Linked DNA regions of Homo sapiens. The protein of the gene in region 2 interacts with the protein of the main gene of each other region in a pairwise test. Each region holds a gene or a part of one and is shown on either strand. Other genes may lie near its edges. The genes, in order: CFH, RSPH1, ZBTB5, CLSTN3 and CORO2B.

Region 1 (4,139 bases), on a different chromosome or scaffold from region 2:
GTCAGCATTCCCAGTTATTGAGTCAAACTAATCTAAATGTTGGTGAGAAAATATGTTGCCAGATACACTCCCAATCAGTTGACTTTAAACAAGCTGATCATTCTAGGTAATCTAGATAGGCCAGATCAAATCATTTGAAAGGTCTGAAACATAGGGCTGAGGCTCCTCTGAAAAAGAGAGGGAATTCTGTGGAAAGCAGCTTCCTTTCCTGTGAGTTCCATCCTGTCTGTAATCTTCCTTTTCTGACTACCTGCCCTGTGGATTTCAGACTTGCTTATCTCATGCTCACAATTCCTTGAGGCAATTTATTTAAAAAACAAAACAAAACAAAACAAACAAAACAAAACCTCTTTTTAAGTAGGTAGATAGGAGATTGGTATGTCAATCAATTAATTGACTGATAGATAGGTAATCTTCTACTTCTACTTAAGCTTCCCGCATTGAATCCTGAGTGATAAATTATTATTAGACTTTAGTAAGTTAAGAAGGCATATGCTATGCTCTGAATACATGCAACCTCCCCACAACCCCCAATTTATATGTTTAAACCTAATTACCAATGTGATAGTATTAGGAGGTGGGGACACTGGGAAGTGATTAGGTCGTGAAGGTGGAGCTGTCATGATTTGGGATGTGTGCCTTTATAGAAGAGGCACCACAGAGCTGCCTTGTCCCTTTCATCATTGGAGGACACAGCCAAAAGGCACTGTCTATGAACCAGAGAGCAGACCTCACCAAACACTGAATCTGCTGGTACTATCTTGCTGTTAGACTTTCTAGCATTCAGAAGTGTAAGAAATACATTCCTGTTGTTTATAAGCTAGGCAGTTAATAATATTTTGTTGTAGCAGCCCAAAGAAAAAAGTTTTAGAAGTGCCCATTAACATGGTGGAACAAATCCATATGAAAACATTTTGCAATATTTCATAAGAAAGAAAACACCATATAAAATTATATTTTACAAAATAATGTGAAAGTTTTTATGGGCACTAATTTTCCCTTGACCTTTTTGCAAATTTGTATTAGTGAACTCATATAATATGTGATTCCACATTGCACTATTTCGATGTTTATAATTTAAGTAAACATATTCTACTCCACTAGATGGTGCTAATACTCTATCATAACAACACAATCCCCGGCCCCTTCCGCACAAAAGGAAAACTGATTAATTACAAGCTGATATGTTTGTTTTTCACTTTCAAAATTTAGATCCATTTGATGATGTTCAGGTTATTGGAAAAAATAAATAAGTAAAGTAATCCATTAACACAAAAAAAGTTTAGCCCGCTCACTTCCTAGTGAGAAGTAAATGCTTTCCCTTCTGGTTATTATTATATTTCCAGGTGATACGTTTGTGCCCCTAATTCTTGATTTCCAAATATAGTTCATTGCTTTTAACAACCAGATGTAGAAAACAAGGATACATCTCTTCCACAAAATCTTCCTACCAACTTCTCACAATATTTACTCTGTGAATATGTTTACTATATATAAAGAATTATCATATTGATTACCTTTTCTCTTCAAATAGTACTTAAAATTCTGGTGCTTTTTCCATCAGTGTTAAATGGCATCTTTTGATTCTGCTTGTAAGAAAAAGATATGACCGCCCCTGTTCTATTTTCCCTTGCTCCTACTACCATCTTCAAAATCTTAGTTCAGATCATCATCTGTCACTTTGGTCATGAAACTTGCCTGCTAACTAGCCTCCAGTCCTCTACTCTCCTGTTACTTCAGTCTATTCACAGAGTGACAAGTGATTCTTGCAAATCTGGTCATGTCATTCCTGTGATTAAAATTCTTCTATGACTTCACTTTTTACTTATCCAGCATTGCTAACTCCTTTCCTTGGTTTGGGAACCCCTTATCTGGCTCTTGCCACTTTCTCGGATCTCATCATGTTAAATCTCCCATGTATTTACTGTGCAAAGTCACGCTGATTTATTTGTTTATATTTTGTTGAGCATTTCAAACTTATTTTTTCCTTAGATCCTTTACACGGGTTATTTCCTCCTCTTAGAATAATTTTACGACAGATTTCTGATGACTGGCTTTGTCTCATCTTTCAGGCCTCTACTCAAATGTTCTGTCCTCAAAGTGATCCACTCATTCTAGTCCCCAAGACCAAGCCCACCTAATGTCTCTACATACTACCATCCCCATCTCTATTTTCTCTTAGGCCCTACTTTACCTCCTTCACAAAATTTTTCACAATGCTATAACTATTTTTGTTCATTAGGTTTTCTATCTATCTCCCCACATCAAAATGTAAGCTCCCCACAATTGAAGAACAATGTTTTTCATAGTTCGTGGAAGAATTTTCATTAATGTCTAGGTCTTCTCACTTCAGATACACTTTCCTGTCTGCTTTTGTTCTAACCATTATTGTATTGAGTATTATTGAGATAGGAGATGGGACTTGGACACTGGACCAAATTGAGGATTATCCAAAACAGGTCTGAGTGGAAGCCCCTCCCTGTAAGACACACAGACCAGTGTGCTATGACAGTTTACCATTACCATGGCAACACCCAGAAGTTACAGGCCCTTTCCACAGCAATGACCCAACAACCGGAAGTTACCATCCTCCTCCTGGCAATTTCAGCATTAACTACCTCTTAATTTCCATATAATTAAAAGTGCATATAAATATGAGTGCAGAACTGCCTCTGAGCTGCTACTGTGGGCACACTGCCTATGGGTAGCCCTGCTTAGCAAGGAGAGGTGCCTCTGAGGCTGCTATACACTGCCACTTCAACAAAAATTGCTGTTTAACACCACAGGCTCACCCTTGAATTCTTTACTGGACAAAACCAAGAACCTTCCCAGGCTAAGACCCAATTTGGGGGCTTGCTGTCCTACATCATTATCAACTCATGCCATAGCAAAAGTATTTAAGGTAATGATTCACTGCACTGAGTTCTAATAATAATTAGGTATATCTTGTGACATAACTTTTATTTGCCTGAATTGACTAACAATCGAATGTTCAAGCTCAGTTGAACCACCTTCAAGTAGACAACAAACGGTTATTTTGGCCCAAGTAGTCAAACTCTCAGCATGTATGTACAACGGGCTTATTAAATAGGATGCATACAAATTGAAAGGCACAGAAACATTTTTTTGAGATGTGATTTATCTTAAAACTAAAAGAAATAGCCATCTCATTTTTCTCATTCTAGATTAATGAGTAGACTAAGCCATCATATCTAAGTATTTGAGTTTAAACAATGAATACTTCATCTTACGTTTACAAGTCATTTAATTGCCAGTTAATTTTGTTTACAAAACACTACATTGGTGAAGCTTTAATTCATTTGGCTTTATTTTACAATTTAAAATTAGTTTTAGTCTGGATGCAGTGGGTCATGCTTATAATCCCAGCACTTTGACATGCCAAGTCAAGAGGATCAATAGACCCCAGGAGTTCAAGACCAGCCTGGGCAACGTGGTGAAACCCTGTCTCTACAAAAAATTTTAAAAATTACCTGAGCAGGCCGGGCGCGGTGGCTCATGCCTGTAATCCCAGCACTTTGGGAGGCCAAGGCCGGCAGATCACCAGATCACGAGGTCAGGAGATCCAGACCATCCTGACTAACACTAACACGGTGAAACTCCGTCTCTACTACAAATACAAAAAAATAGCCGGGCTTGGTGGTGGGTGCCTGTAGTCCCAGCTACTCGGGAGGCTGAGGCAGGAGAATGGCGTGAACCCGGGAGGCGGAGCTTGCAGTGAGCCGAGATAGCGACACTGCACTCCAGCCTGGGCGACAGAGCAAGACTCCATCTCAAAAAAAAAAAAAAAAAAAAAATTACCTGAGCAAGGTGGCTGTAATCCCTGCTACTTGGGATGCTTAGGTGGGAGGACTGCTTGAGCCCAGGAGGTCGAGGCTGCAGTGAGCCATGATTGCACCAGTACGCTGCAGCCTGGGTGACAAAGTGATTCCCTGTCTCAAAAAAGTAAGAATAATACTAAACAAAATCAAGTTTTTTTTTAGCCCATGAATTAAGAGTGTGAATACGTTTAACTACTGGTAAAGAGTAGGAATGTTTTTACTATAATTTGAGGAAAATAGTTATATAATTTTGGTCAAAGCTAAAAATCAATATTACTTAATATTTTAATAATCTTAATT
Region 2 (4,139 bases):
TCACATTGCTGGTGGGAACGTAAAATGCTGCAGCTACTGTAGAAAACATTTGACAGTTCTTCAAAAAGCGAAACAGCATCACCATATGACCCAGCAATTCCACTCCTCGGTATATAACCAAAGGAACTGAAAACAGAGATTCGACCAGATGCTTGCACACCAATGTTCACTGCAGCATTATTCATAATAGCTAAAATGTGGAAGCAACTCAATTGTCCATCAACAGACAAATGGATAAGCAAGAACCTTGAAAACGTCGTGCTAAATGAAAGAAGCCAGACACAAAAGGACAAATACAGAATGAATTCATCTATATGCGACATCTAGAATAGGCAAATTCATAGAGAAAGAAAGTAGATTAAAAGCTATCAGGGGCTGGGGGAGGTCGAATGGGGAGTTGTTGCTTAATAGGTACAGAGTTTCTGTCTGGGATAACGGACAAGCTCCAGAAATGCATCATTCTCACAGCTGCACAACACTGAACGTACTGAATGCCACTGAAAGCATGCTTTAAAATGGCAAATTTCAAACTCTATAAACGTACATATAAAACCATAATTTAAAAAGAAACAGGGAGTGAGCCGTGGGCTGCAGCTTGGCAAGCCCTACTCTAGAAGGGATACATTCCCCTTACTAGGGAGAGAGAACACGGAGGCCCTTCTGTTCCACCACCATCCTAATCCATCCCCACAGCACAGTGGGAGGCCTTCCACAAAGCCCTCAGGTTGTTGCTGCATTATTTCATGGGTGGTTTTTCCTAAACAGCAACAGGACTTGGGGCTTATATCAGTAATTCTCTCTTAGATGTTACTGATGCTCCTTCTACCTTCTTCTCATCATCCTGAAATACTGACTTCTAGGAACTTTTTCCAGTAGAGTCTAAAGCTGCAAAGCACTTAATAAGATGGGCTTTATTTTTATCACTACACAAATGTAAAAACTTGCTCAATCACCAGTAACCCTAAACAGTTATTACCAGTGCTGACAAGATATCAATTTAACCAATAGGTTCCTTCAGGGAACAGATGAGAGGTGTCCAACCCCATGGAAATCCCAGCAAAATACTAAATACCTCCCTGTCACAATCAAATCCTAAAGCCGACTGTCTTTCTTAGGCTTCTGACTATGTGTGTAGGAGGTTACACACACACACACACACACACACACACACACACATAAATGAAGTGGAACCTCGGGGGAGGACAGTATGTCAAATTCCTCTACGTTTTGTTAGATGCAGGTGACTTACAGGAAGCTGCCTTCCACCCAGACTAGAGCACCCTGCGGTCCATGAAGAATTCGTGCTCAGAGGAGGTAGGGCCTCTTACTTAGCAACAAAATCAAGCATTTTGGCCATTTCATTTTCTGGTTTTCTAGGGACCTGCCCCTAGCCAGTGGTTCCTTTTAGCTGGAGCAAAGCAGGAGAAGAGGCAAGGAAGACAGATCACTGTGAGGCCACACAGGATTCTGGTCAGCCAAGAAGGTGGACCATGAGCAACCATGGGCTGTTTGGGGAAACTAAATAACCATGGCCAGAGTGATGTGCAGAAAGTAGAATATCACAGGAGCGGGAATCAGGAAAAGAGGGTGGCTGAGGTCAGGGCCGAGAGCCCCGGGGATGTCCAGACTGTGGCCACTTGGGAAGCAGCAACGGAGCACGGACAGTCACTTGATCATGGGAGGTTAAGGGATAAAGATTCAAAGACTCCCTTTGGTTTTAGAATCTAACAAACTCTAGGAAGAAAAATGAGAAAAGTTAAAAAACTGTCTGGAGGGCTGGGCGCAGTGGCTTACGCCTATAGTCCCACCACTTTGGGAGGCTGAGGCAGTGGATCATCTGAGGTCGAAAGTTTGAGACCAGCCTGACCAATATGGAGAAACCCCGTCTCTACTAAAAATACAAAATTAGCTGGGCGTGGTGGCACATGCCTGTAATCCCAGCTACTCGGGAGGCTGAGACAGGAGAATCGCTTGAACCCGGGAGGTGGAGTTTGCGTTGAGCCGAGATCACGCCATTGCACTCCAGCCTGGGCAACAAGAGCGAAACTCCATCTCAAAAAAAAAAAAAAAAAAAAAAAAAACCTGTCTGGAGAGCATTGAAGAGCATTGAATTGAAAAATTAGTGATGAGTTTAGACTTAGGATTCAAGGCCAGGGCCCTTGGGGTGAAAGGATGGAGCATTAGGTAGAGACAGCAGTGGGCGGCACAGAGCAGGTGCGGGACAGGCCCTCATGCACAGGATCTCCCGCAGCCTTCCAAGCTCCCCACAGTGTGGCTTCTACCTCCTGTGACCAAGGATAGCTTTCCACAGCCTCACACCTGAGCCCAAGGTGACGAGGAGTCGGTTTAAAGCAGGGCCTCTGGGTGATGCCAAGGGCTTGACGAGGGACACAGCAACAAAAAAACAAAACGAGGTGACTTGGCTCAGGTTGTGACATAGTTTGGGTGTTTGTCCCCTTCAAATCGCATGTTGAAATGTGACCCCCGGGGTTGGAGGTGGGGCCTGGTGGGAGGTGTTTGGGTCACGGGGGCAGATCCCTCATGAATGGTTTGGTGCCTTCCCTGTGGTGATGAGTGAGTTCTTGCTCTATTAGTTCACACAAGAACTGGTTGTTAAAAATATATATATATATACCTGGCACCTCCTCCCCTCTTTTCCTCCTCTTTTGAGCTATGGTACCAGCTCCCCTTCACCTTCCATCATGAGTGGAAGCTTCCTGAGACCTCACCAGAGGCCAGGCAGTTGCGGGTGCCATGCTTCTTGTACAGCCTGCAGAACTGTGAACCAAATAAACCTCTCTTCTTTATAATCTACCCAGCTTCAGGAATTCCTTTATAGCAGCACAAAAAGGACTAACCCAGGTTGAAAGGGCATTGATGTGATGGTAGACCCAAACAAGCCGTTCCCCGGCTTTCTTCAGAAAGAAAGTATGCAGACATGGGAGAGTTTGTGTACGATAATATATTCTTAACTCACTAGGAGGGGACACCTCAACAACTTCAGAGACCAAAAAACAAACAAAAGCGTGATTCCACACTCCTCCTTAAAACTCAAAACTTCTTACAGTGAGAATGACCTCATCTAAACAAATAAGTCAAAAGGATCAAAACCAGTACCAGGGTCAGGAAATGTTGCTGAATTGCTAATTATCTAGAGGGATTGATCAGACATTAATAATGAGAGGAATAGGAACACATATATTCCCACCTCAACACACATACGCATCTCGATGCCTTATAACGGCAATATTAGCTGACTAGCTTTACTATTAACCAGGGAATGTCAATGTAGTGTTAATATTAATGTTAGATATTGGAAAGGAAAAAACAAGAGAAAGACTTACCAACGGCACGTTCAGAGGAGCATGCTGCACAACGGACAAGCTAACAGTCACTGGACAAACTGTGGCAACACCAGTTACAGATTCAGTTTTCACTTGCAGGACCTAACACTGTCTAGAACCCTCCCACTCAGGATTAGTTTTTTATTTATTGGTTGTTTGTTTGTTTGTTTTTGAGACAGAGTCTCACTCTGTCGCCCAGGCTGGAGTGCAGTGGCGTGATCTTGGCTCACTGCAAACTCCGCCGCCCAGGTTTAAGCGATTCTCCTGCCTCAGCCTCCTGAGTAGCTGGGATTACAGGCATGCGCCACCATGCCCAGCTAATTTTTGTATTTTTAGCGGAGACAGGGATTCATCACGTTGGCCAGTCTGGTCTCAAACTCCTGACCTAAAGCAATCCACCGCTTCGGCCTCCCAAAGTGCTGGGATTACAGGCGTGAGCCATTGTGCCCTGCCAGGATTAGTTTCTATCAACAAAAACGGTATCTATCAACAAAGTCTAGAGTTCTGCAATAAATGGGAAATGATATTGTTTGCTTCTGGCAATTTAGTTCTGTACTAACACATGCAGATAAGGAAAATGAAAATGTGAAAGTGCCTAAGAGTTGGCATAACTTTTAGGCGAATCACCTCCAACCTTGCAGGATCAATATTTTTGAGCAGCTACTTCCCTGTTAATGTAACAAAACCCTACATGCTCCGCAACTTACCATATCTGTTAAACGATATTCACCATGTTGTTCACACCCAACATCAAATACATACTTTCCAGGGCCAACAGGCTACGAGCAAAGAGAA
Region 3 (4,139 bases), on a different chromosome or scaffold from region 2:
GATTCTTCTGCCTCAGCCTCCCGAGTAGCTGGGATTACAGGCATGTGTCACCACGCCCCACCAATTTTTTGTATTTTTAGTAGAGACGGCTTTTCTCCATGTTGGTCAGGCTGGTCTCAAACTCCTGACCTCAGGTGATCCACCTGCCTTGGCCTCCCAAAGTGCTGGGAGTACAGGCTGAGAAGCAGGGGCTGGCATGCCCATGCCCTGTTTTACATTTTTTGTAAATCTCTTTAATATGTAGTTTAATAGAAGACAGCTGGATTCCATTAAATGCTTCTGCATTCATTTTGCCGTGATACACTATTTTGATTAAAATATACCAAAAAACTCCAGCATCACACAAATATGTAGTTGGAAAGGGAGGATTATTTCAGTAGATTTTTCAGATAATTTTGGATATTCTTACTCTGATACTGTACCAAAACTCCACAAGTGGTATTTTCTTAAGTGATTAGTGCAATGTGGAATCTGAAATTATGTCAATGAACTTTTCATATTCTGTTGCATTAAAATACATTAGCTTATGTTTTGTACCTTGAATGAATTTTTACCCATACCTTGTTTTATAGCATTATTGTTACATGGCTACATGGTCATTTGGAAAATACTGATTTCAGAGTTATGCAGATCTTCCAAACGTTGACTCATTTATTATACAATGTAAAAAAATCACATTTCATTAATATCACCAATGATCTGTCAGAAGAATTTGAGCATGTGGGAAGCTGTCAAGCTCACAGTGACAGATACAAGTTTTCCAAAATACTAATTTTCACCTGAATTCTCAAACTTTTTTATTGGCAATAAGTAGTACTAAGTTATCTTATTTAAAATAACAGGCTTGTTTCATTCATTTTTTCATTCATTTTCAAGAAAATGGTAAATACTTCTAAATAACCATAGTTTGTCATTCGTTCTTTCAAGTAAAAATAGTGTCCCATGAGAAAAGCAATTAGTTGAGCCACCTCAAAAACTGCACAAGTGCTTTTTCTTGAGGCAACTTGTATTTCAGAATGCAGGAGGAAAACTTCAGGTGTACTTCCCATTTTATCACACATATTGAAAACAGGTACTCAAGAGTTGAGACTTAATAACAGATGTAGGGAAGGGGAGGCTGGGTCTCCATTGGAGTGAGCATTTGGTTAGTAGTAGCTGTGTTCAGCACAGATGTTTGGCATTCTGACCTGATTGTTCCTGCTGCCTAGCTTAATTTCTTCCCAGTTCAATCTTACGTATCCAGCCTTCCCATCAATTCCATGATCAAACTAATAGCCTTTCAGTAAATTACTTTTATGTTTAGGATCAATTTTTGTTGCTGCAACCAATGACTCTGGCTGATGTGCTGCTTAAACTTAAGAAAAAAACCCTAAAATACTTTTTAAGAAAGTAATCTCAAAAGTGATGATAGCCTTTAGTTCAAAAGTATGTGCCTCATGGTTAACCTTTCTGATGACTTGTAATTATTAACATCAGTTATGAGCAGTCACTATCCAATACCTACCTTTCTAGCCATACTATTTTCCAGCCAAATCGAATACATTGCTTTACCCACCTCAACCCCTTCTCCACCTTTACCTCTGTCTAGGGGTTTGTCCAAATCCAACCAAGACCTAGCTCTGTTGTCAACGCTACCATGAAGCTAGAAATAACCTTTGCCTTCTCCAAACCATTGAGAGGTTCTTTCACCTCTTATGTGGCACTTAGTGCCTTCCACTTTGTAATATCGTTATTCATGTATATCTTATTTCCACTAAATACCTGTGACAGTTAGTACTGTCCCATACAAATCTATGCTCCACAGCGCTTAACCTTGAACAAGTAAGCACTTTAAAACATTAGATGATGCTGGCATGGTGGCTCACACTTGTAATCTCAGCACTTTGGGAGGCCAAGGTAGGAGGAATACCTGAGCCCAGGAGTTCGAGACCAGCCAGAGCAACATAGTGAGACCCGTCTCTACAAAGAATAAAAAATTAGCTGGGCATGGTGACGTGCCTGTAGTACCAGTATTTGGGAGGCTGTGGTGGGAGAGTCACTTGAGCTAGGGAAGTGGAGGCTACAGTGAGCTGTGATTGCACCACCACACTCCAGCCTGGGTGGCAAAGCAAGACTCTGTCTCAAAAACAAAACAAAACAAAAAACATATTACATGAATGAACTTGTATACAAAAAATACACAAGTACCTTTATGGGCTGTTGAGGTCCCTTGAGCTGTATACTACCTAGCTCCAAGCTGCTGGGCCTCTTTTCCCCCTTAGTGGGTCAGCTGTCTCTTTCTGCAGCTATCAGCTTAACTTCATTTAAGCAGCCACTCCTTGCTCTCATTCTGGAGTTGCTGCTTCAGTTAGTTAGGGAACTAGAAAAACTTGAATTTTGTTTCGAACAAAAGACTGTGTGAGGGCTTAAGGGACTTTCCTATGAGAAAATCTTTCATCCATAGTCTTTGATCTTTATTTTGGATATTCTGAGACTTTTTCTTCTGGTTTTTGGCTGATTTTAGAGATAGTTGTGATTCTCAGAAAAGTGATTTTTGGGTAATACATTATACTTCATCCATATATAGCAAAAGTTTATTCAGCAAATAATTTACTGAGTATTTTATGTCAGGCACTTTGAGAGAGAGAAAATACAGTTCCTGCCCTCAATAAGCTGTTTTAGTAGAAAAAGCATTTGAGCTTGTACTAGGAACCTAAGTAGGGCACTAATACCTTTTCTTATTCAAACTGAGTTACAGAGCTCTAGGTCAATTCATCCCTAGGGATTTTGGCCTGGAAAACAAGGTGGCAATGTGGAGAGAATTGGAGAGTTAGGTGAGATGGTCAGGGCTTCCAGCTCGCCTTCCTCAGTCATGCTCATCTTTAGTCACTAGTGGAATTTTCCTGTTTTATAGAACTAATCTGTTCAGTTTCTGAGCCAACCCTGACAGAGCAGAACCAGAGATATTATGACATTAGTCATGCTGACAGGTCTGGTTTCTTGGGGTTAACCCAGGCATCATTGTGCCCACCTAGTTCCAGCCTTCCCCTACTCCCACTTTGCTGGTCAAATTAGAACAATGGATGGATGTTCCAGTACTCCGCTCTGTCTGACTTGGAGCCCTGTCAAAATTCCTAGCCTGGGCCAGGTGGGTGGGTGGCTCACGGCTGTAATCCCAGCACTTTGGGAGGCTGAGGCAGGTGGATTGATTGAGCCCAGGAGTTTGAAACCAGCCTGGGCAACATGGCAAAACCCCCTATCTACAAAAAATACAAAAATTAGCCAGGCATGGTGACACGCACCTGTAGTCCCAGCTACCCAGGAGGCTGAGGTGGGAGGATCACCTTGAGCCTGGGAGGTCAAGGCTGCAGTGAACCGTGATCAGGCCACTGTACTCCAGCCTGAGTGAGAGAGTGAGATCCTGCCTCAAAAAAAGAAAAAAAAAAAAATCCTAGCCTGCACTTCCGGAGCCTGTGGTAGGAGGATTGCTTGAGCGCTGGAGTTCAAAAGCAGCCTGGGCATATTGAGACCCCACCTGTATTTAAAAAAAAAAAATCCTAGCCTACTTGAGTGGGTCCTTGCTTTGTTCTGCTCTCTGACTTTTGTTTTCATCTATATCGTCTCTACAAGTGGAGGAAATGTTCTGTCTAGTTATTTTTCTGCTGATGAAATGGGAGAGTTCTCTGAACCCCCCTCGCAGGACGTGTGACAATGATGTGGCTCGTCTGTTTGGCTGCCACCACTGCTAAAACCCTTTACAGGAGGAGGAGCACAGAGACAGGCAGGGGCAGGAGCTGGGGCAAGCTCTTTTAGGCTCTGGCCCCACGGTGGCATCTAGGGGTGGGTGCCTGCAGCTCCCGAAGCCCCATTGGGCATGCTACAGTGCTCTTTTAGCTTGCCATATGCAGATGGGTTAAGTGTTAACCAGCTCAGTACCTTCTTGGTATTTGGGTTCTTGTCCAGCATCCAGGAAGAATTGGGTCACACATGGACTTGAAGGATGGTGTATTCGGGATTTTATTGGATGATGGAGGTGGCTCTCAGTGGGATGGATGGGGAGCTGGAAAGGGGATGGAGTGGGAAGATGATCTTCCCCTGGAGTTCGGCTGTCCTGTGGCCGATCTCTCTGACCATCCCCAGCTGAATGGCTCTTGACATTC
Region 4 (4,139 bases), on a different chromosome or scaffold from region 2:
CGGTCCTACTGAATCCACCACTCTTTGCCTTGGACAAGGATGCCCCGCTGCGCTATGCAGGTAATTGGGATTGGGGGATGGCAAGGCAGGGTAGGACAGAGAAAAGTGGGTGGGAGGGCCAAGAGCAAGGGAGGGAGGGAAGGTCCTGGGAGTGATGAGAAAGTAAGGGAAGATAAAAGTGGGCTCAAGGAGGGGAATGGTCTCCACTGAAGAATGGAGATTGAGTCAAGGATGCCAGAAAAGGACATGGCCAGGCAAGGGTTAAACACATCATGATTTTGTCAGATCTCAGGTCTGGAGGCTCTGGGAGGTTGCTGCTCAGGGAAGCTGGGCTTAGAGTTGCGTGTTTGATCATTAATGCTTTTGTGCCTACAGGAGAAGGGACAGGGCTTTGGGAGGAGAGGTGGAGCTGGACCCCAGGTGGGGAGACTGAGGGTGGGGAAGGAGACACAGCAGCCTCACTCCTCCCCTTCTCCCCTTTGCCAGGTGAGATCTGCGGCTTCCGGCTCCATGGGTCTGGGGTGCCCTTTGAGGCTGTGATCCTTGACAAGGCGACAGGAGAGGGGCTGATCCGGGCCAAGGAGCCTGTGGACTGCGAGGCCCAGAAGGAACACACCTTCACCATCCAGGCCTATGACTGTGGCGAGGGCCCCGACGGGGCCAACACCAAGAAGTCCCACAAGTGAGGAAGTCCTTGTCTCCTGCCCCATGTGTTGCAGGGTCCTCCTCCCTGCTCCCAAGCCCACCATCCTCTGTCCGTGCGGTCATCGAATATCCACCCCCACCCGCTGCTGTTCCTAGGACTTAGGGAGCCCCATCCCCTGCTGTTCCTAGGATTTAGGGACTTTCAGGCAAGGTGACAGAAACGTATAGTAGAGTTCAGTGGATCTAATCTTGGCTTTGCCTCTCATGACCTTGGGCAGCCTAGCCTTTCTGGACTTGCTTTTCCTTATCTGTAGAATGGAGATTGTGATGACACCTACTTCATAAGGCTGCTGTGAAGATTCAAGGAGATGGTTTGTGTTGAAAGCATGCACCACAGTGCCTGATACACGTTGAAGGGCACAGTACATGGGCATAATGATGAGGAGGAGAGCAAGAAGGAAGAGGATGAACACACTCAGCATGCATCCAGTTCCCTTTCAACTGCCCCCTCCAGTCTATTTGCAGTGTATACCACACACACGATCCCTATCATACACATATAGCTCTAGGTGAGGGTGGGCAGGCGATGGTTGTAGCAAGAAAGAGGCTCGGGTCTGGGACACCTACGCTTGTTGCCAGCTAACTTCTTATTTGAGAATAAGAGAAAGATCTTCAGTCAGGATTCCTGAGCCACTAAGAGGCACTAGAGATAAAATGCTCTTTGTGACTCAGTTTCCCATTTGAAGATAGGACCCTTGCCTCTGGGGCCTGGGAGCCTGGGTCTTGGCCTGGGGCAGGGCTCAGCATGAAGGGCCTCGACCCAGCTCTGCTTGCCCCGGTGCATGACTAGGGAGGGGCCGCATGTGCGGGAGGCAGCACTGCCCACACGTACTGTGCAGACATGTCAGATGACTTGTGACCTTTGTACACATGCCATTTCCCTTCTTATGGCTGGTTTTAATTTGGCTTTTACTCTGCATCTTCCTTGCTTATCCCCCCGGATCTGACTGTTGTGAAGGAAGGCCCTGCTGGATTTTATGCCTTACCCCTCCTCTTGGCACCCTGACCCATAGCATTTTGCACAGAAGTCATCAAAATCAGCTCCTGAGCACCCCTGGGCCTTGTTCCTCATCCCCTACATCAGTCCTCCTTTCTTTGGGCCCTCCCTCTGGTGTTGTCCTCTCCCTGGCATGACTTTGATGCAGCTTGGTGCCCTGTGGGGTGGGGAGGAGCGTGCTGACTGCCTCAGTCTCAGGGATAGATGGGCAGGCTCCCTCCTGTTCTGGCTCTCCGTCGGGATTCCTGCTTGCTCCTTTCTGGCATATGGGTGTACCGTGTCGAGGCTGTACCTTGGTGTACAGTATAAGGCTGTATCTCGTTGTGCCCATATTGAGGCTGTTTGTTGGTGTACAGTATTGAGGCTGTATCTTGGTGTACGGTATCGAACCTGTCCCTCCATGTGCCGTATCAAGGCTGTATCTTGATGTACCGTATCGAGGCTGTACCTCGGTGTGCTGTATCAAGGCTGTATCTCAATGTATAATGTCGAGGCTGGCTGACGTGTCTTCATCCCTCCTTCTCTCTGGCATATGCAGGGCCACTGTGCATGTGCGGGTCAACGATGTGAACGAGTTTGCCCCAGTGTTTGTGGAACGGCTGTATCGTGCGGCTGTGACAGAGGGGAAGCTGTACGATCGCATCCTGCGGGTGGAAGCCATTGACGGTGACTGCTCCCCCCAGTACAGCCAGATCTGCTACTATGAGATTCTCACACCCAACACCCCTTTCCTCATTGACAATGACGGTGAGTCCACCCCTGGCTTCCCTGGCCACCCAGTTCCCCTTGAGCACCCACCTCCCTCAGGACAACCCAGGGTTGCATTCTCCACTTTTGCCCCTCAGACCCTCACCTCACCCTTCTTCCCAAATGGAGCCTTCTCCTCCCAGATGCCTTTTTTCCCAGCGTCCTGCTGCCTAACCTGCCTGCTGCCCGATGATCTCAGACATCCTCCCCTCCCTGCCCTGGGCTTTCTCCAATGCTCTAATGCTCTGTCCTCCTGACCCCACCCCAGGGAACATTGAGAACACAGAGAAGCTGCAGTACAGTGGTGAGAGGCTCTATAAGTTTACAGTGACAGCTTATGACTGTGGGAAGAAGCGGGCAGCAGATGATGCTGAGGTGGAGATTCAGGTGAAGCCCACCTGTAAACCCAGCTGGCAAGGTGAGAGCTCAGCGCTGTGCCCCATCTTGTGAATCATCTTTTTTCTTGGTCTCTCTTTCTGTCCTTTCTGACAATCATGGGGGCCAGGCTAGGGCTTGGATGATATTGGGGCAGGCTTGCAGCTATCTACTCTAGCCGGGCCATCCTGCCAGGAGCCCCAAACTGTCCATGGACATGGCAAGAGGAGCATGGAGAGGGGAGGCTGCTTTACCCTTCTCTCTCCCCATCACCCTCTCTGTCTCACCCATGCAGGCTGGAACAAAAGGATCGAATATGCACCAGGTGCTGGGAGCTTGGCTTTGTTCCCTGGTATCCGCCTGGAGACCTGTGATGAACCACTCTGGAACATTCAGGCCACCATAGAGCTGCAGACCAGCCATGTGGCCAAGGGCTGTGACCGTGACAACTACTCAGAGCGGGCGCTGCGGAAACTCTGTGGTAGGTGTGCCCCCAACACTGCCTCAGGCCTATCCCTTCCCATCCAACCTCTGTCCAAACTTTTCCAAGACTCTGCTTTACATCACCACTGGCCATCCACAGGTGTTTATCCATAGAGGTTGTGACACGATTAGCATTTGCGGCCCAAAAGGCAGGTACATATGTCTTTGGCAAAGATGCATAGTCATCGCACCAGACAGTCACCGGATGCATGGTGGAACAATGGTAGGGCGAGATGAAGAGTTGGAGAATGGGTTAACTGGAGAGATACTCTTAGAAGTGAGTTCATCCCTCTCTTGTCTTTGAAAGGCCATAAAAGGTGGCAAGACGTGCTGTAGGAAATCTTTTCCCATCAGTCCCTCTTTCCCTGCCTCCTGCCCTTTTCACCATCTGCTGCTTCTTGGCTCTGACACTTGTGCCTCCTGGGGCTCCCACAGGTGCTGCCACTGGGGAGGTGGATCTGTTGCCCATGCCTGGCCCCAATGCCAACTGGACAGCAGGACTCTCGGTGCACTACAGCCAGGACAGCAGCCTGATCTACTGGTTCAATGGCACCCAGGCTGTGCAGGTGCCCCTGGGTGGCCCCAGTGGGCTGGGCTCTGGGCCCCAGGACAGCCTCAGTGACCACTTCACCCTGTCCTTCTGGATGAAGCATGGCGTAACTCCCAACAAGGGCAAGAAGGAAGAGGAAACCATCGTATGTAACACTGTCCAGAATGGTGAGCCTCCCCTCCAGGCACTAGCCAGAGGGGGAAACTGGCTTCTTGTCCCGCCTCTGTCACTGCCCAGTGTGTGACTGTGAACAGGTCACTTCCCCTCTCTTCATTTGTGAGG
Region 5 (3,796 bases), on a different chromosome or scaffold from region 2:
TAATCCCAGCTGCTCAAGTGGCTGAGGCAGGAGAATCACTTGAACCCAGGAGGCAGAGACTAAAGCTGAGTGATGGGTACTTGGGGGTTCATGGTGCTATACTTTCTATTAATATAGATATATAACATTTTTCATTTAAAAAATTTTTAAGTGTTTTCTTGTATTTATTTATTTATGTTTTAGAGACAGAGTCCTGCCCTGTCTCCCAGACTGCAGTGCTGTGGCACGATCATAGCTCACTATAACCTCAATCTCCGAGGCTCAAGCAATAATCCCACCTTAGACTTCTGAGTAGCTGGAACTAGCGGCGTGTACCACCATACCCAACTAATTTGTTTTTAAACATTTTTGTAGAGACAGGGTCTTACTATATTGCACAGGCTGGTCTTAAACTCCTGGGCTCAAACAGTCCTCCCACTTTCGCCTCCCAATGTGCTGGGATTACAGTCATGAGACACTGCGCCCAGCTATTTTCTTGTTTTTAAAAGAACTCTACTCTTTGAAGATAGAGACACAGGGGTCATTGTGATAGCCCAGGAGGGCAATAACAAGGGCCTGAGCTCAGTTCTGGCACTGGGTCTGGAGAAGGCAGGGTTGAATAGTAGTTAAATCAAGCAATATTTCGCTGTAGACTTGCCTATGGAATCAGAATTGAGAACCTGGAGGAAAAGCTTAAAGGGTCTCAGAGCAGACAAAACAGATGCCACAATCTACACCAAAGTTGTGCATCTTCCTCGCTGGGAAGAAGCTTTCTCAAAGCCTGCTGACTCTGCCTTTATCCACAGTTTTAATCATCGTAGCAGTTCGGAAGCAGCCAGTTAGAAAGTGGGGCTGTCAAAGGTGGACGCATTGATCTAAGTGTGAGGAAACAACTGACAGCTTGATGCGAGGGAAAAGTCCTACGATTGTACAACTCAGGAACTTTACTAAAAATCGCTGAATTGTAAGCTTAAAATGAGTGACTTTTATGGTGTGTGAATTACACCTCACTAAAGCGGTTTTTTTGACAAAAGTGGACCAAAAAACAATGCAAAGAAATTTTGAGAACTTGGAAGACGCAAGAGTGTGTAGAGTCATTTAGTGCAAAGGCAAATAGCACGTCATCCCTCTCAACAGATGTAACTGGGACTGGTGGTTTGTTAGTTAACAAAAAATATTTTTTTAAGTTATATTTTTTTAAGTTAGTTAAAGGAGGCAATCATGGCTGGGCACGGTGGCTCACGCCTATAATCCCAGCACTTTGGGAGGCTGAGGCGGGAGGATTGCCTGAGGTTAAGAGTTCAAGACCAGCCTGACCAACATGGTGAAACCCTGTCTCTACTAAAAATACAAAATTAGCCAGGTGTGGTGGCGCACGCCTGTAATCCCAGCTACTCGGGAGGCTGAGGCAGGAGAATCACTTGAACCCAGGAGGCAGAGGTTGCAGTGAGCGGATATTGCACCATTGCACTCCAGCCTGGGCAACAAGAGTGAAACTCCGTCTCAAAAAAACAAAAACAAAAGGAGAGAATCATAAAAATGATACATACATTCTTTTTTTTTTTTTTTTTTTTTTTTAGACAGAGTCTTGCTCTGTCACCCAGGCTGGGGTACAATGGCACAATCTTGACTCACTGCAACCTCCACCTCCCGGGTTCAAGCAATTCTCCTGCCTTAGCCTCCCAAGTAGCTGGGACTACAGGTACCCACCACCATGCCTGGTTAATTTTTGCATTTTTAGTAGAGACAGGGTTTCACCATGTTGGCCAGGCTGGTCTTGAACTCCTGACCTCAGGTGATCCACCTGCCTCAGCCTCCCAAAGTGTTGGGCTTACAGGTGTGAGCCACGGCGCCCAGCCAATAGATACATTTGGTTTCTTTGTTGTTGTTGTTTTGTTTTGTTTTGTTTTGAGATGGAGTCTCACTTTGTCTCCCAGGCTGGAGTGCAGTGGCATGATCTCGGCTCACTGCAACCTCCACCTCCCGGGTTCAAGCAATTCTTTGCTTCAGCCTCCCGAGTAGCTGGGATTACAGGCACCTGCCACCACACCTGGCTAATTTTTATATTTTTAGTAGAGATGGGGTTTCACCATCTTGGCCAGACTGATCTTGAACTCCTGACCTCGTGATCCACCCACCTTGGCCTCCTAAAGTACTGGATTACAGGCGTGAGCCACCGTGCCCGGCCGATACCTTCTTTAAACCATTTATTTTTGTTTTAAACATAAAACATGCGAGGTGTAGTGGCACCCCTCTAGTCCCAGCTACTCAGGAGGCTCAGGTGGGAAGATCGCTTGAGCCCAGGAGTTTGAGTCCAGCCTGGGCAACATGGCAAGACTCTATCCCTAAAAAATAAAAGTAGGCCGGGGTGGTGGCTCACACCTGCAATCCCAGCACCTTGGGAGGCTGAGGGTGGATCACTTGAGGCCAGGAGTTCAAGACCAGCCTGGCCAACATGGTGAAACCCCGTCTCTACTAAAAATACAAAAATTAGCCGGGCGTGATGGCACACACCTGTAATCCCAGCTACTCCAGAGGCTGAAGCAGAAGAATACCTTGAACCCGGGAAGCGGAGGTTGCAGTGAGCCAAGATCGCGCCACTGCACTCCAGTCTGGGTGACAGAGCAAGACTCTGTCTCAAAAACAAACAAATAAATAAATAATAAAAATAAAACATATACATTCATTTAGCATATTTTGATGCAGGACCAGGACCTTTTCTTCAAGGAGGCCCTCCCTGGTTGGAATCTGCCATGTCTTTCACACAAATCACACCTTAACTCCCATTTCCAGTTTCCATTTCTTTTAGGTAGAAAAATAATTTAAAGTTCATCTGAAAGCAAAGTCCTAGTTTTTACAATGTTTTCTCTCATCTTTTTTTGAGACATTGAGGTATAATTTGCCTATGGTAAAATTCATCCTCTGTAGTGTGTCGGTTTAAGAGTTTTGACAAACACACACAGTCATGCAGCCACCATCAGCCAAGATATAGAATATTCTCCAGTCTTTTAGGGCTAGATCTTCCACACCCAATTCGGCCACAGTTTTTTTAGCATCATCTTTATCAAGATTTTCTAAAGCATTTAATTAAGTTTTTATAGAAACAACAACTCTCTTTTTGTGCTCATTTCATCAATTTATATTATATTTCATTAAATTATGCAATTACAATAACAAATGTAATTCACACCAGAAAGTTTGAGACCAAACACAATTGACTGTGGGTAACATTCAACTCAGGTGTGCAGGAGCCTCAAGGAGCCTGCTGCCTTCCAGGGCTCGGCGTTTTGTGGACATCTGTCAATATGCTTTACAGGAGAAATGGAGGCGGGTTAAGCTAGAGAGTCATTGGGGTGAAGATCTGCCAGGATAGCTGTACATGAATCCCTGACCAGTGCAAACTTTGGTATTCTTGTCATAGTTCCTCATCAGTAGGGAAAAAGCTAGATTCCATTCTGTATCCTGAGCCTCCTTAAGAAGAGAAGGATACAAAGCATTTTAGAAAGTTCTAAATTATCAGCACAAGCCGGGCATGGTAGCTTACACCTGTAATCCCAGCACTTTGGGAGGCTGAGGTGGGTGGATCTCTTGAGGTCAGGAGTTCGAGACCAGCCTGGCCAACATGGTGAAACCCAGTCTCTACTAAAAATACAAAAATTATCCAGGCATGGTGGCACATGCCTGTAATCCCAGCTACTCGGGAGGCTGAGGCAGGAGAATTGTTTGAACCCAGGAGACAGAGGTTGCAGTGAGCCGAAATCATGCCACCGCACTACAGCCTGGGCGACAAAGCGAGACTTTGTCTCAAAAATAAATA

The links.
Region 1: the proteins of RSPH1 (region 2) and CFH interact in a two-hybrid assay, tested with the Homo sapiens proteins (one large-scale study listed by BioGRID and IntAct).
Region 3: the proteins of RSPH1 (region 2) and ZBTB5 interact in a two-hybrid assay, tested with the Homo sapiens proteins (one large-scale study listed by BioGRID and IntAct).
Region 4: the proteins of RSPH1 (region 2) and CLSTN3 interact in a two-hybrid assay, tested with the Homo sapiens proteins (one large-scale study listed by BioGRID and IntAct).
Region 5: the proteins of RSPH1 (region 2) and CORO2B interact in a two-hybrid assay, tested with the Homo sapiens proteins (one large-scale study listed by BioGRID and IntAct).

What each region holds. Positions count from the first base shown.
Region 1 is NC_000001.11:196,658,084-196,662,222, reverse strand, and holds part of CFH (complement factor H isoform a precursor), read right to left. Parts: intron 1-4,139. UniProt on the Homo sapiens protein: Glycoprotein that plays an essential role in maintaining a well-balanced immune response by modulating complement activation.
Region 2 is NC_000021.9:42,478,586-42,482,724, forward strand, and holds part of RSPH1 (radial spoke head 1 homolog), read right to left. Parts: intron 4,124-4,139; coding exon 4,052-4,123; intron 1-4,051.
Region 3 is NC_000009.12:37,455,236-37,459,374, reverse strand, and holds part of ZBTB5 (zinc finger and BTB domain-containing protein 5), read left to right. Parts: intron 1-4,139. UniProt on the Homo sapiens protein: May be involved in transcriptional regulation.
Region 4 is NC_000012.12:7,133,087-7,137,225, forward strand, and holds part of CLSTN3 (calsyntenin-3 precursor), read left to right. Parts: coding exon 1-60; intron 61-486; coding exon 487-682; intron 683-2,240; coding exon 2,241-2,449; intron 2,450-2,717; coding exon 2,718-2,867; intron 2,868-3,119; coding exon 3,120-3,305; intron 3,306-3,742; coding exon 3,743-4,024; intron 4,025-4,139. UniProt on the Homo sapiens protein: Postsynaptic adhesion molecule that binds to presynaptic neurexins to mediate both excitatory and inhibitory synapse formation.
Region 5 is NC_000015.10:68,721,584-68,725,379, forward strand, and holds part of CORO2B (coronin-2B), read left to right. Parts: intron 1-3,796. UniProt on the Homo sapiens protein: May play a role in the reorganization of neuronal actin structure.